Linked DNA regions of Homo sapiens. The protein of the gene in region 4 purifies or fractionates together with the protein of the main gene of each other region. This does not show direct contact. Each region holds a gene or a part of one and is shown on either strand. Other genes may lie near its edges.

What was found.
Region 1: the proteins of VWA8 (region 4) and CRYBB3 purify together in Homo sapiens (co-immunoprecipitation; one large-scale study listed by IntAct). This does not show direct contact.
Region 2: the proteins of VWA8 (region 4) and DCAF4L1 purify together in Homo sapiens (co-immunoprecipitation; one large-scale study listed by IntAct). This does not show direct contact.
Region 3: the proteins of VWA8 (region 4) and FAM167A purify together in Homo sapiens (co-immunoprecipitation; one large-scale study listed by IntAct). This does not show direct contact.

Annotation. Positions count from the first base shown.
Region 1 is NC_000022.11:25,198,577-25,202,657, forward strand, and holds the start of CRYBB3 (beta-crystallin B3), read left to right. Parts: upstream 1-1,281; 5' UTR 1,282-1,333; exon of another isoform or gene 1,334-2,800; 5' UTR 2,801-2,820; coding exon 2,821-2,895; intron 2,896-4,081. UniProt on the Homo sapiens protein: Crystallins are the dominant structural components of the vertebrate eye lens.
Region 2 is NC_000004.12:41,980,591-41,984,555, forward strand, and holds the start of DCAF4L1 (DDB1- and CUL4-associated factor 4-like protein 1), read left to right. Parts: upstream 1-1,165; 5' UTR 1,166-1,202; coding exon 1,203-2,393; 3' UTR 2,394-3,965.
Region 3 is NC_000008.11:11,425,254-11,428,753, forward strand, and holds part of FAM167A (protein FAM167A), read right to left. Parts: intron 1-3,500.
Region 4 is NC_000013.11:41,958,310-41,962,578, forward strand, and holds the start of VWA8 (von Willebrand factor A domain-containing protein 8 isoform a precursor), read right to left. Parts: upstream 2,801-4,269; 5' UTR 2,707-2,800; coding exon 2,544-2,706; intron 1-2,543. UniProt on the Homo sapiens protein: Exhibits ATPase activity in vitro.

The sequences.
Region 1 (4,081 bases), on a different chromosome or scaffold from region 4:
CTACAGGCACCCGCCACCACACCTGGCTAATTTTTTGTGTTTTTAGTAGAGACAGGGTTTCACCGTGTTAGCCAGGATGGTCTCGAGCTCCTGACTTCGTGATCCGCCTGCCTCGGCCTCCCAGAGTGTTGGGATTACAGGCGTGAGCCACCGCGCCCGGCCTGTAACTGGGTTTTATGCTGACTTGAGGATTTTAGCCAAAAACAAATACCAACAACAACAAAAGAAAACCTTGTTAACTCACTCCTTTGCTCCAATATAATTTTATTCATAAAATAATCACTTATTAGATATTGATTACAGGCAAAATTATACTTTGTTAGACACTTAAAAAATTCCTGGAAGCTGGGTGCAGTGGCACGTGCCTGTAGTTCCGGTTATTCAGGACACTGAGGAGAAAGGATTGCTTGAGCCCAGGAGTTTGAGTCCAGCCTGGGCAATGTAGCAACAACCTATCTCTAAAAAATAAAATAAAAATACCTGGATCTACCTTTTTTCTTTGGTCATAAATAAGTTGACTGTGATGGTCACTTTTATTTCTATTGAGGCTAAGATCCCAGGTCCTGGAGCAGGCCAGCCCCTTCTCTCTGCTGTGTGATTCTGAGTAAATGGGTTCACCTCTCTGAACTCAGTTTCTCCATGTATAAAGTGGAATCAGAATTCCTCCCCTAAGGATGGCTGGATGAGAATTCCATACAATGCTTGTGAAGCTGGCACAATGCCTTGCGTGTAGTAGGTGTTCAAGAAATGGTAGCTATTATTCGTGCGTGTCTTCTACATGAAGAAAGTCAGTCTGTGAGTTCTGTGACGGCATCCTATGGAAACGGTTGGGTGGATTTGCGCCCAAGTTGGAGAGTATGGTTAGCGTGATCTGACTTAAAACTTAGGCCACATGGCACATGGAAACTGGAGAGTGTCTGGGGTCCCTCACTTTAAGAACTAGAATTTTTCCAAAGGTTGCGTGTGACTCAATAGGAAATGGTGACCCCAAGAAACCAAAGAAAGGGAGTTGGTGGTTGTGGGGAGACACGGGAGAGCTGCACACCGTGCCCCTTGCCTGGCGCTGCTGGGCTTCCCACAAAGCCAGTGAGGTTCATCTGTCCCCAGGAAGTCATCAGAGACGGTGGCTGAGGAGACAGGCACTGGGGGCCTCCGTGGACCCGCTATTGGAGTGAAGTGGCCTGGATGGAATTGGGTGGACAGGGTGCTGCCTCAGCAGGCTGGGATGTGCTGGGCTGTCAGAAAGTGCTCATAAATAGCATGCCCCTTGCGAAGACAGGCGAGTCTGCAGACGGCCGTGGCTCCTCTGTTCTTCCCGAGGCTACAGCAACAGGTTCATTCTGGGATGGGTTGGGGGTGGGGAGGCAAAAGCCACCCTGGCAGGCCCGGACCTTTTGTAGTTTCTGTGGGACGCGCATGGCTGACCGCCTGCAAAGAAAAACAGCGCCTCCCTTAAGGGTCAGGTCCCAGTGAGAGGACCCTGACAGCCCAGCTGGGGGTGGAACGAGGGACCCTTGTCTGCAGTGGCCAGGGTCCAAGCCCCTGGACATGTGCTTAGGGCAGGGGACCTTCCAAAACAGCTCCTCTGAGGGAGGGGAGTGGGCACACATGGTACCTGCCAAGTCCCCCGAGAGTCCCCTGTGAGCTGGACCAAGCCCTGTTTCCTGCTGAGGCTAGGAGAGACAGAACCGACAGCCCGCAGGCTGTGCATGGTTAGGCCCACATCCAGAGTATGTGGGCTGTGCAGCTGTGCATGCTGGGGTGGCCGTGCTGGGAGCCGTGGGTGGGTAACAGTTGGATGTGGGGTGTAGATGTAGGTGCCTTGTTTACCACTGTGGATGTCTGAAATGGGCAGGGATGTGTGTGTGTGAGGAGAGAGAGAGAGAGAGAGAAAGAAGCTGTCCTGTGAGCCCATGGGTGAAATATAACTGATAGTGACCATAGAAACTTTTGCGAGTGTGTGCACCTATGTGTGTGTGCTGACAAACAGAACAGTCCTGTGTGTGTCCATGGGTGCAACAATGATGAGAATCCTTCCATGTGACTGCGGCAGGGGCCTGTATTGCGTGTCACTGTCCCTGTAGCAATGAAGAACTGTCGGTGTCTGGGTCTTGAAGTGGCTGGTACACAGTCGTGTTCAATAAATGCTTAAGGAATGAGTAACCGAACGCAGGGAAACTGACCTGGAGCAGGTGTCCAACGACCTGGTCTTACAAGCCTTTTCTCTAGAGGTCTGTCTGTCCACCTCCCGACATATGGGGTCTCCTGTCCCTCCTGGTCACCCAGCCCAGAGCCTGGCACTGTGTAGGTGCTCATGGAATATTTGTTGAATAAAGTAACCAGTGAACAAAAGAGTTCCTGGAGTACGGAGGTGGGAGAGACCCCTGTAGAGGAAACTCCCTGAAGCCCACCCTTTAGCCAGGTTCTGGGGGTGGGACATCTGCAGAGAGCTCTGAGAAACCTGGGTTTCGGGGAGCATCTGGATCAGGGGAAAAGGGCACGGGCTTTGGAGCCAGGCCCGACCCAGGCCACTTCCTCACTGTGTGCTTGAGGAAGTGGCCTCACTTTGCTGAGCCTCAGAGTTCCCCTCTGTACAATGGGGCTCCTGATCCCACTGTCTCAGTCCACGTGGCCCATGGCAGGTGCTCAATGGATGTTTGCTGAATGACTGAATGTCGATCATAAGTTACAGCCACGCCCCATGGGCAGCAAGGCTCTGTAGCTCATCCTGGACTCCAGTCACATCAACACCTGGCTTCTCCCGGGTGGATCCAGTGAACCATTTTCTTTTGGTTTGAAGCCAGAGGTGTTCCTGGGGAGATGGCGGAACAGCACGGAGCACCCGAACAGGCTGCAGCTGGCAAGAGCCATGGAGACCTTGGGGGCAGCTACAAGGTACTGGGCAGGGAGGGGGTCAGAGGGCCCAGGCTACTCCTGGGCCTCAGGGTCATCTTCCCAGCCAAGCAGCACCTCTGCAGGAAGGAAGAGCCATCCTTCCAACCACCCAGGCCAGGACAAAACGCTCCGGGTGGGTCCTCTCACTGCCACCCTCCCGTTAGAAACTTGCTTCATGACTTTGCTGCATCTTCCCTCGTCTGCAAAACAGAAATGGTCACCCACATCCTGCCTGCACCAATGGATCAGAGAGGCCCGGGGGTTTCTGGAAACGGCTCTGAGCTCTGACTCTCCTGTCTGACCTCAGCCTGGTGTCTTGCCCACTCTGGGGAAAAGGGCACAGGGTTTGGAGGCTCTCTGGGCCTCAACAGCCCCATGTTTGAAATGAGGATGGTGCCCAGATATTGTGCCCAGAGTTGGTGTAAAGGCTGAAAGACATGAGTGAAGCCAGCTAGCAGAGGGAGGCACACTAGAAATCTGAGAGAAGGTTTGAATGTGTTGGCTCTGCCCTTTCCAAACCATCTCCGGGGTCTTTTTGGGAAACTATTCCAGACAGAGTCTAAGGATGGGTCGAATCCCAGTGCCTCCTCTTAACTTGCTGTGCAGCCCGAGGCAAGTATCTTACCCTTTCTGAGCTTCTTTGATCCCTTCTGTAAAATGACTAGAACAGATGTTCCCTGGGGATCTTCTACAAAGTCAGTTTGTGTTTCCAGGTGGGTGAGAGAGGCAAAACCTTGGTCTGCCTTTGCAGCCCTTCTCTTCCTAGGCTTGGGGCAGGCAGAGGTCTTCCCCGAGACTGCAAACAGGTGTTTTCATTTTTTTAAGGGGGAAATTTCCTATTAAGGAAAATACAGATTTCTGACCTCTCTTGAAAAAATTGGAACTGGGACCTCATTCCCTCATCGCCAGAAGCAGCTTCATTTCCCCACCGACCTCTCGGGTTATTTCAGTCCGCTGGACTCCCCACCTGGCTCCTGCTGGACATCAGAGTTGCAATCACTAGTTTAATTGGTCTCATTGAAGTTCCTGAAGGCGTTTCCCTCCATGACCATTAGAGGGCAGTGCAGGCCCACCTCAGTGCCAGCTCCAGGCTGGAGAGATGCAGAAAGCAGAGGGTACCTCCCTCTAATGCCCAAAGGAGGGGCAGAGGCTGGAGCTGGGAGCCTAGCAGAGGTGGGATGTTTAG
Region 2 (3,965 bases), on a different chromosome or scaffold from region 4:
AGTCTTGCTCTGTTGCCCAGGCTAGAATGCAGTGGCGCGATCTCGGCTCACTGCAAGCTCCGCCTCCCGGGTTCACGCCATTCTCTTGCCTCAGCCTCCAGAGTAGCTGGGTCTACAGGCGCCCGCCACGATGCCCGGCTAATTTTTTTAATTGTTGGTAGAGACGGGGTTTCACCGTGTTAGCCGGGATGGTCTCAATCTCTTGACCTCGTGATCCGCCTGCCTGCGCCTCCCAAAGTGCTGGGATTACAGGCGTGAGCCACTGCGCCCGGCCTAATCTTTGTATTTTTTTAGAGACAAAGTTTCACCATGCCGCCCAGGCTGGTCTCTAACTGTATTTTAAAAATACAGGCGGCCGGGCGCAGTGGCTCACGCTTGTAATCCCGGAACTTTAGGAGGCTGAGGCGGGCCGATCATGAGGTCAGCAGATCGAGACCATCTGGCTAACACGGTGAAACCCTGTCTCTACTAAAAATACAAAAAAAATTAGCCAGGCGTGGTGGCGGGCGCCTGTAGTCCCAGCCACTTGGGAGGCTGAGGCAGGAGAATGGCGTGAACGTGGGAGGCAGAGCTTGCAGTGAACCGAGATCGCGCCACTGTACTCCAGCCTGGCCGACAGAGCGAGACTCCGTCTTAAAATAAAAAATAAAAAAATAAGAAATACAGGCAGGGCGCGTGGGCTCATGCTTGTAATCCCAGCACTTTGGGAGGCTGAGGCGGACAGGCTGCTTGAGCTCAAGAGTTCCAGACTAGCATCGGCAAAGCAGGGAGACCCCATCTTTACAAAAAAAGTAGCCTGGCATGGTGTTGTGAGCCCATAGTCCCAGCTAAGTAGGGCAGAGGTAGGAGAATCACTTGAGCCCAGGAGTTCCAGGCTGCAGTGAGCCGTGGTCGTGCCACTGGACTCCAGCCTGGGTGAAAGAGCAAGACCCTGTCTCAAAAAGAGAAAGGAAAAAATTTAACATCAAGAACTTCCTTTCATCAAGACACCACTGAGAGAATACGACAACCCACAGAGTAGGAAAAGAGATTTGTAATACACATCTGTAACAATGGACTTCCTCCTAGAATAGAGAGGATAAAAAGTAGCAACACTTCCGCTTGCACCCGGACGGAACTTCCTGTCACGGAAAAGAACATCCTGTCACGGAGAAGAACATCCTGCAGAATTTCCTGTCACGAGGAACATTCCGCAGGAGGAAATGGAGGCTGAAAGGCTGCGACTCCTCGAGGAAGAGGCCAAGCTGAAAAAGGTAGCCAGAATGGGATTTAATGCATCTTCCATGCTCCGAAAAAGCCAGCTAGGTTTCCTCAACGTCACCAGTTACTCCCGTTTAGCCAACGAGCTGCGTGTGAGCTGCATGGAGCGGAAAAAGGTCCAAATTCGGAGCTTGGATCCCTCCTCTTTGGCGAGCGACCGATTTAACTTCATTCTGGCGAGTACCAACAGCGACCAGCTCTTCGTAGTGAACCAGGTCGAAGTCGAAGGCTCCAAGTACGGCATCATCAGCCTGCGAACTCTGAAGATCCCTTCGTTCCACGTGTACGTGCTCAGAAACCTCTACGTCCCCAACCGGAAGGTGAAGTCCCTGTGCTGGGCCTCGCTGAACCAGTTGGACTCTCACGTTCTGCTGTGCTTCGAGGGAATCACAGATGCTCCAAGCTGTGCAGTGCTGCTCCCAGCGTCGCGGTTCTTAAGTGTTCACACAAGAGTTAACCAGCCTGGCATGCTCTGCAGTTTCCAGATCCCAGAGGCCTGGTCCTGTGCGTGGTCCCTCAACACCCGGGCATATCACTGCTTTAGTGCAGGCTTGTCTCAGCAGGTCCTGTTGACCAGCGTGGCGACGGGACACCAGCAGTCATTTGATACCAGCAGTGATGTCTTGGCCCAGCAGTTTGCTAGTACGGCTCCTTTGCTGTTTAATGGCTGTCGCTCCGGGGAGATCTTTGCCATTGATCTGCGTTGTAGAAATCGAGGCAAGGGGTGGAGGGCCACTCGCCTGTTCCATGACTCAGCAGTGACCTCTGTGCAAATCCTCCAAGAAGAGCAATGCCTGATGGCATCAGACATGACTGGAAAGATCAAGCTGTGGGATCTGAGGGCCACTAAATGTGTAAGGCAGTACGAAGGTCACGTGAATGAGTCCGCCTATCTGCCCCTGCATGTGCACGAGGAAGAGGGAATCGTGGTGGCAGTGGGCCAGGACTGCTACACGAGAATCTGGAGCCTCCATGATGCCCACCTGCTCAGAACCATCCCTTCCCCGTACTCTGCCTCCGAGGACGACATTCCCAGCGTGGCCTTCGCTTCTCGGCTCGGGGGCATCCGGGGAGCAGCACCAGGGCTGCTCATGGCTGTCCGGCAGGACCTTTATTGTTTCCCCTTCAGCTAATTCTGCAGGTGGCAGCGCGGCCGAATGTGGATTTGACTTAAGGAAGTTAAGAGTATCTTATTACCGTTTCTGTGAGAGCATTTTAAGAGACGTGTTGTATATAGATCGCATCCATCCGGCTGCCAGGGGTAAGGTGTTAAGAGTTTTATGTGGAGACGTTCTTGTAAAGTTATTTCAGTTAAACTGTGGACTTAACTTGAAAGTCCTTTTCATAAAAGGTACCTGTTTCCTCTTGTTGAATGCCTTAGAACAGTTAACCACCTCCCCAACCCTTTTTTTTTTTAAATAATTAAGACTTTTCTAAGGACTGAAGATTGGCAAAAACTAAAATAAATTAAAGCAGCTTCTTTCACTAGTAGCCCTTTAGAGAAGCATAATGATGGTACTGGTAAGACTGTTTGACTAATCATACAGGGTCCCAGGCATCTGCGCTTGAGGAAGCCAGTGGGAGTGGAGACAAGGGAGAGGTAATTTCTCAGAGTCTCTACAGAAATATTTAAGGCTGGAGTTTGGAATCATTAAATTTGGCCTTCTCAAACTCAATAGCAGATCTCTTAAGGTTCTCCTTTTATTGTTATCATCCATAGGCATTGGAAGGAAAGATGGATCTTTTTAAATACTAGAAGTTTTAAACAGTCCTTGATGTGCTTTTGTTGAGGTACCTTTCAGAATGTAAGGTACAGCAGCTCCGGTTTCTATTATGGTGACTTGAAGTTCAGATTCAAGGAATTGGCTTTGACTTTTTGTAATCTAGGAGCAGCAGTTTGTGAGAGATTTATTAAAAATGTTAAAGAGCCTGTTTTTCTACTAAGCAAGGAAGAAAAAAAACGTGTAATAAGGTTAGTTGCTACTTCTTAATAGCCAAAGCCTGGAAATGATCTGAATTTCGAAAATGCTAAAATTCGTGATATAATCATACAATCGGATACTGCATAATAATAGAAAATAAGGCACACTTGCTATGTGAAACAGTATGGACCAATCTCAACATGTTGACTGAAATTAGGTAGAAATGAGTACAAACTGTATGATTCAATTCTAAAGTTCAAAAGCAGTAAAAACTTGTCTATGGTGATTAAAGGTAGAGTAGTACGTACCTCTGTAGAAAGAAAGGATTTTTTTTTCTTTTTCTTTTTAGGATGTTTGAGAAGTGACATGGGGAAGCTTTAGGAATGCTGAGTTTTCTTTATCTTGACACTTGATACATACGTAATTCATATATCTATATGCTTCACGTTTTTATAGTTTACTGTATATATGTTATTCCTCAAAAAATAAAAATAAGCAATTAGGACACTATTGTAGTTAGGCAAGGGACAATGATGCCTTGGACCTGCATGTGTGAGAAGTAGAAATGATCAGAAATGATTGCATTGGAAGATCATTCGAAGGTAGTATTATTGATAAGGCTTGCTGATGAGAGTAAACTAGAAAGTGAAAGAAAAAAGGATGGCAGCTTTTTTTTTTTTTTTTTTGAGACGGAGTCTCCTTCTGTCGCCCAGGCTGGAGTGCAGTGGCGCGATCTCGGCTCACTGCAAGCTCTGAGGATGGCAGCTTTTTTGTTAACTTTAG
Region 3 (3,500 bases), on a different chromosome or scaffold from region 4:
TCACTACAACCTGTGAAGTGATGTCACCATCATCACCCACAGCTTATAGAGGAGGACACAGAGGCACAGCCAGGGAATTAGCTGTGTCGGCTCACAAAGCTCATCCACAGCCGAGCTGGGATGAGGAAGCCGGACAGCTGGACTCCAGAACCAAAATGACTGACAATGAAGTTCTGCTGCTCAAGGACGAGCTGCAGTGTGGTGTATGGAGCTAGCAGAGTGCTTAGTGACCTTGTAGAAGGTTCCTAATATTTTTAGTGGCTTGATGTTTCCTATTGATGTGTAAACACAAGGTAAAATCCTAAGCCCCCCAACTGACTGAACAAGCCCGCTCTTCATCAAGAGGACCCCAGAGAAGCCTGAAAACTGAATTCCCAGCCGTGATGGGAATGGAGTTCAGACATGCTTTGTTATACCCCCCCTTGCTGTTGGAGTTTAGGCACAGCAGATCGGCATTAACATTGAAATAGAGATATAAGACTGACAAAACAGACTCTTTGTGGCAGTAAGGTAGCAAATTCCTGCCTCTGGTATAGCGTCACATAACAGGTAGCAAACCCTGAAGAAAATAAAAATATTTTACCCTGAAGTATATTTCTTTGACATATTTTGAAATGGCCCTGCAAAACCATCTCTTGTGGGAGATACTTACATCTGTAGAGCATTTCCATTAATGCAATCAAGCCTTCCCTTTCTAGGCCTTTCCAAGATCTAGGAGAGATTAAATGAGAGTCTGGCAAATTTAAGGTCTGAAAAGAGATATTTACCATCTATTTTCTCTAAAGGCTTCTACCTGGAGGCTTCATCTACATAACAAGAACCTTGGCCTCCACAACTGTCCTTTGTCTTAAGCATTTCTTTCTACTGACTTCAAGTCTTTAGGCAAAACTTAACTCTTTCAATCAACTGGCAATAAAAATATCTTTGAATCTACCTAAGACCTGTAAGCACCCCCACCCTCCAAGCCCCTTCAAGATATCCCACCTGTTTAGGCTGAACCAAGGTATACCTTCTGTGTATTGAGTTATGTCTTTGCTTGTAACTCCTGTCTCTCTGAAATGTGTAAAACCAAACAGTAACTGGACCACCTAGGGCGAGCTTTCTCAGGACCTCATGAGACTGTTCCCTGGCCCATGGTCACTTACACTGGCTCAGAATAAACCTCTTTAAGTATTTTACAGAGTTTGTTTTCTTCTGTTAACAAAGAGATGTGATAATTATTTCTCACCTGGCTTCACACTCCCAGTTTCCCAAACCCACTGTAAACCAAAAGTGTCTGAGACAGGTGTCAACAATTTAGAAAGTTTATTTTGCCGACGTTAAGGATGCACACCTGGGAGGCAGGTCTATGCCTTTCCTCAAAGATGATTTTGAGGGCCTTAATATTTAAAGGGGAAGGAGTGGATACTGGGGGAAGAGGAAGAAATTTTTTAAAGGTGTAGGTAGATAAGAGACAAACGATTGCATTCTTTTGGGTCTTTGATCAGCCTTTGGTTGATCAGTCTTTGATCAACCGAATACACAATTTACATGTTTGTTTAGGGTAGAGGAAAAGTCACTTGTGTCTTAGTCTGGCTCACTGAATCTGCATTTTTATAGAAGATAACATAAACACAAGGCACGTGAAGCAATCAGGTATGCATTCGTCTCAGGCGAGCAGAGGGATGACTTTGAGTTTTGTCCTTTGTCCCGCACCTGAGAAGATCAGATGTCAATTTACATTGCCAGGGTGAAATTCAACAGAACTGTTTTAGGGTACAGGTCTGGGGGCCCAACACGGAAGTTCTTTGTGGGCCAATTGTGAGGGAGGTATGTAGGTTTTGTCTTTGCAGCTATCTTATCTAGAAATAAAATGGGAGGCAGCTTTGCCTGATGCAGTTCCCAGCTTGACTTTTCCCTTTGGCTTAGTGATTGTGGAGTCCTGAGATGTATTTTCTGCTCATGTTTAACCTTGATGGGCCTCACAGCCACTCCTGAGGTACCAGCAGGACAGTCTGGCTCCATATTTTACCAGCCAGCATGCTAGCTGGAGCTCAGAGGGCTGGTTTCTCAGTTGTGACATGGTACATAGGGACTGGCTTAGTGCAGAGCGCCTTCTGTAAGCAGCACTTTGTCACTGGGACAGGTTGCCAGCTGCTCCTACTTGACTCGAGATCTGAATCCTTCTCACTATTTCCTCTGTCTCCACTTGTAAGTGGTTATTTAGTATTTCTGCGACATGCTCGGCTGTGCCATTTACCTGGTGCCTGGAGCCAAACTGATTAGAAAAATGAGCCCTGAGATGCCCTGTAGTTATGCAAATGAAGGCAGTGTTCTCACTTTCTCCCTGTTAGGTTTATAATAGAGCACATTGCAGGGTAGAAAAATTAAGTGACCTTGCCAGCGAGCATCTCAATGTTCTTTTTTTCCTCTCTCGTTTTTTATGCACTTGTACAGATCTCTTTTCTCCTGATTTCATATATAAGAAAAATCAAGATAGAAAGTCTTGCTTGGGAGTCAGCAAGGTATCTAATGGCAAAATTGGGATTAAAGTTCATAGCCACATTCATTAGTTTACTTTTCAATCCTTGGGCCTCAAGCATTGAAGAAACTCAAATTTATTGCTAATTAAATTCTATTGACCTAGAATAGCACCAAATTAATGATGATAGGGTGGCTGGTCATTTGTTTTGTAATGGTGTCCCTCACTGAGCCTGGAACGGAGCTAGGTGCTACCTAAACCCTTCTGAGGAGATGGGGGTCAAACCTGCCTGAAAGATATTGTCTGCGAACACCCATTGCCTTAGTACAGTCATCTGTCACTTCTCTTTGGAGTGTTCTGTAATTTGACAATAGATCTTTTTGAAAAACTAGGAACCCTATGGTTTAAGATTTGAGCTTTGGCCCCAGGAATTGCATCTTTGGTGTGAAAAGATCCTTTGAAGTCGGGGAATTTGGGGTGTGGCCAGGTGTCTAAGACTATCTGTGAGACGCAGGCTGTGGCGGACACATCTCTGTGGGGTAGCAGGAAGGAAGGGGCTGTTTTTCTGTGGCTGACAGATCTGGTCAAAGGTCAGAGAACAATTTACTCTTTAAGACCCATCAGAGGCAGCTAGAAAGAGGGCTGACAGTAAGGCCTGTGTCAGTTTCCATGGACTGGACAAAGGCCGCCTGGATGGCGTTGCCTCGCACGCCCATGCTGTGCACATGCATTCAATTCTGCGTAAGGGTGAAAAGAGAAAGAAAGCTGCAGCTTCAACAGGGATGGTGATTCCGGCCGGTCTCCCTGCTTGCGCTCTGAGAGAACATGAGGAGGGGGCTGGGAATTGCAACTTCCTCAGTGGGCTTTGGTTCTGAGGGCATCTCACAGCGTGAGCATCTCGCTAGGATGCACTATGGGTTCTCACATTTAGATGCTCACAATACATAGTGTGTTGGGATCCCTGCACACAAATCAACAAATTCATCTCCTGCCCCAAAGAACAGGGTTTGTCCCCGTGATGCGGGAGCCCTGGCTGTGC
Region 4 (4,269 bases):
TACTAGGTACAAAGTGTTGGCAGGCACCAAACGAATATATAGATAAACAAAACAAATACTCCAGGAGAAATAACAGCAGTATATAACTTAAATATATTATTTATGAACTTTGTTGTTCTTTTTTCAAACTATTAGGAAGCAATGTCAATTACAGAGAGAGGAGATAATCAGTTACTGGTCACATGTATGAATGCAGCTGAGAGCATCATCCCAACATAAGATGTAATCCATTATGGCCTATTGCTATTTGTAGTTTTACACTTGTCCATGTATGATCTCTGATTCAAAATGGGACACTTCCATCTTGATAGCCTTACTCTCAGGCCTCAGAGTAGCCAAAAGTGTGCTGTCCATTTACCTGGCTCACAACTGCTCTTACTCAAGTCCAGATCTCTGGTGGGTTCCCAGCTGCATTCAGTTACAGTTCTCACACCCTCAAAAAATACCTCTTTTTGGTCTGATCCTGCCAGAGTAAATGACTGATTTAAAGAAGATAGTATGTTCTCTGTAATATGTCCATGACTCTCACATTTGAAGCAAAGCCTATACTTTGATTTACTGGCTATAACAAAATTTGAGGACATTTACAACTTATCTACCAATACGTATATAATACAGACTTTAAAAACTCACACCCACATGTGTTTTTACAATCAACATGTATTATCCATGTACAAAGAACAATTGTTTTTTAAAAAGTTCAAGTCAATTCACTCGGCTAAATCTGCCTACCCAGATAGTCTGAACAGTCCTGAATCTAAACAAACTTGGTTTCATGTCTTCTAAAGGCAAGGAAACAGAATAATTCTCAAATAGCTAAAACTGTACATACTAAGAATAAAAAAGCTAACTTTTATTGAGCATTAATATGTGCCACAGATTATATTAATTAATAAATCCTCACAACAACCATAATAGATATATTCTTCTTATCCTTTTACAGTTAAGAAAACTAGGACACAAAGTTAAGTAACCTACCCTCAACGACCCATGGTTAGATAGTGGATAAGTGGATTCCAACCCAAATTGTTTAACTCCAAAACCCAACCTATAGTTTATGCTATACTTCCACCTTTGACCTCTGCCTTCTAGGGCAAAGGAGCAAAAAACAAATAAAGAACACACAAAAAATGTAAAAAACAAATGAATAAACAGCCCAGAAGTGAGAGTAATTGAGAAAAAGCAAAAAAAAAAAAAAAAACAAAAAGTAAAATTTGAAATTGCAACACTATGGTGGGGGACGGGGGTGGTGTATGTCTTCAATGAATAAAACGAAATACGTGGGACCTAAATATGCTTTTTTTTTTTTTTTTTTTGAGATGGAGTCTTGCTCTGTCGCCCAGGCCGGAGTGCAGTGGCTCCGGTCACTCCAAGCTCCGCCTCCCGGGTTCACGCCATTCTTCTGCCTCAGCCTCCGGAGTAGCTGGGATTACTGGCGCCCGCCACCACGCCCGGCTAATTTTTCTGTATTTTCTTTTTAGTAGACACGGGGGTTTCACCGTGTTAGCCAGGATGGTCTCGATCTCCTGACCCCGTGATCCGCCCGCCTCAGCCTCCCAAAGTGCTGGGATTACAGGCGTGAGCCACCGCGCCCGGCCCATATGCTCATTTCTTAGCAAGGAAAACTGGGGGTTGCGGGGAAAATGCAAGAGGACAACGAAACCTACAATTTCATAGTGAAAACCTGTTATTCCAAGCAGCACTGACATTGACAAAATCTTGTCTGGAATCACTTCACCATTCAAGGGTAGCAACAACAGATATCCTTTCCTTAACCATCACAGTAACTCTAACTCCACCAACACACAAGAAAAAGAATTCCTAAAACCAGCTCAAGTAGAGCCAAAAAATACTGAGCTTAGAAATCAAAGCATGTGATTCTAGCATAGTAATTAGTTGTGTGTTCTCCAGCGAATCACTTTTCCCTTCTGGGTTTCAATTACCTCATTTGTAGAGGCAAGTGTTTTAACTAAATTAAGGTGTAACTGTCAGCTCTAAGAATTACGTGAAACTTTAAGGAAAACTCCTGTAAAACTTGGAAAGGCTCGGGGATGCATTTAAAACACCGTGAACTATGGGTTCTTTGGCAAGAATGTTCCCTTCTAAGCCGCCACAAGCCCTGGCTAGAACATGACACAGACCGGCTTCCAGGCCCTTGAGGCTCAGAGAGCAAGGTCAAATCCAGCTTTCAATAATTCCATAGGGCTGAGGCATTAACCTCTACGAGTATTATAACCTAAGTCAGAATTCTGGGGGTAAAGGCAGCGGCAGGGGAAGGAGAAATCACTCTTCTAGGTCATCAGAAACCTTAGTCCAGACCCCTCGGGTTGCAGAATCAGGCACAGAGAGGGCGAGCGCCTTGCCCCCACGTTACACAGCAGTTAGCGCCGAGGTCGGGACTAGAACCTCAATCTTTCAGCTCCCCGCTCGGCAAACGGTCCTTCCAAGCGCAGCGAAGCAACAGAGAGGAGGGGCGGGGGCGCGCGGGGACCCGGCACGGAGCGCAGGGGCACCAGGGAGGACAGGGGCGCACCCCGAGTTACCTGTGTCGGCCCCCGAGCCGGCGTGCAACAGTCTGACCTCCGGCCGCTGCCTGTCGCCACCCGGCCTGCGCTGCACCACCTGCCGCAGGAGCAGCCGCATGCGCCGCGAGGCCGGGCCGCCGTGGCCTCCGGGTGCCCCGAGGAGTAGAAGCCGGGATTGCATGGCGCCGGGGGGGCTGTCGGGGACGGCGAGGGGGCTCGGGGATCGAGCGGCGTCCCGTGCAGGCACCGTGAGGCAGCGCGGAGAAGGGGACAGGAAGCGGCACCTAGCCGAGTCCGCCGGAAACTCCTTCCCCCGCGGCGCGGCCGGCTCAGTAGACTCAGCCCGGCCCTACCCGGCCCTGCATGGCCCAGACGGGCGGAAAGAGCCTGCGGAGCTCCAGCCCAAAGAGCCGGCACCGTCCCGGGACTGCCCGCACCGCGGGGGTGCTCCGAGCTGCGGCGCTGGGCTCTGGCAAGCGCCTCGCAGTCCGTGAGACTGTCTGTTCACCTGGATGCACCAGGCCTTCACCCGCCGTTTCCCTGCGATCCCACAGAATCTCAGGAGTTCAGTAAATGCCAAGGGTTTTAGGAGCATTTGTCGGTGTGACTCTTCAGATGCTTGCCCCAAGTCTTCGTTTCTTAGTTAAAGGCCCAGTAAGTATAGGGAGCTTTCCCTGTATTCGGCTTCAGATTTCGGAAATGGAGAAAACATGCACAAGATGATGGGAACTTTCACAACTGTCTTGATTCATTGTAACCACACTAGTGTTTCCAAACCGTACGTGAAAGCTTTACCCTTTGTCCTTTTGGTGGTGGTTGTTTGTTTCTGTGTTTTATTACCGCTTCCTAAATTCTAAGGAAAAAATTCACATCTTAGTGATAGATGGAAATTGCTTAAATATCAGAAAGGATCCAGATCAAGCACTTTTCTAGTCATGCTGTAATACAAAAGTTATATAAAGATGATTTATGTCTTTAGTAAAGGAAAAAGTAGGACACTGGCTAAGGCTGCCTCCCTCTTGTACATTCCAACATCGGAAATGGTCCTACCACAAAGCAAACTAAGCCTAATGTAATTAGACTGCATCCCCAAAATGTCACAGTGAATTGACTAAGGCAAAATATTTGAGACAAGTTATACAAGCAAACATCAAAAAGAAGGCAGAAGACCTCACTTTCAGCTAAAGACCTTGCTAATTCTAGAGCTGCCACTGTCTAAATACATAGCACCTACCCTGCGCCTGACCCTGTGATGAGTGCTGAGAAGAGAGTGTTAGAGTGGAGACTGTAAAAGTCAAACAAGGCTAGGTAAGGAAGGCTTTGGGCATCCAGCGGAAGAACTTGAGGAATGAAGGCTGAACCAGGCTTCTAACCTAGATGAGGAGACAGTGAAAATAAAGGTAATAAGTAGTTACACAATATATTATGACTTCGTTTCATGTGTATCTTCTCATTTAATCCTCATAGCAACCCTAAGACATAAATTTAGGATGTAAGCTTATAAAATGCTTTTCCTACTTTGAGCACATTGTATGTATCAAGATTTTAATGAATTATCCCATTTCACATAAAAATGCTTTGAGGTACTATTATTATCCTCCGTTTTACAGATGAAGAAACTGAGGCTAGAAGAATTGAATACCTTGGTCAAGATATCTCCATTTAATCTCGCTGGAACTCAGTAGACACCTGAAAGAATGGGAGAACAACCTAAGGCAATTTTGCAAAGTGGTTGATATAAGCA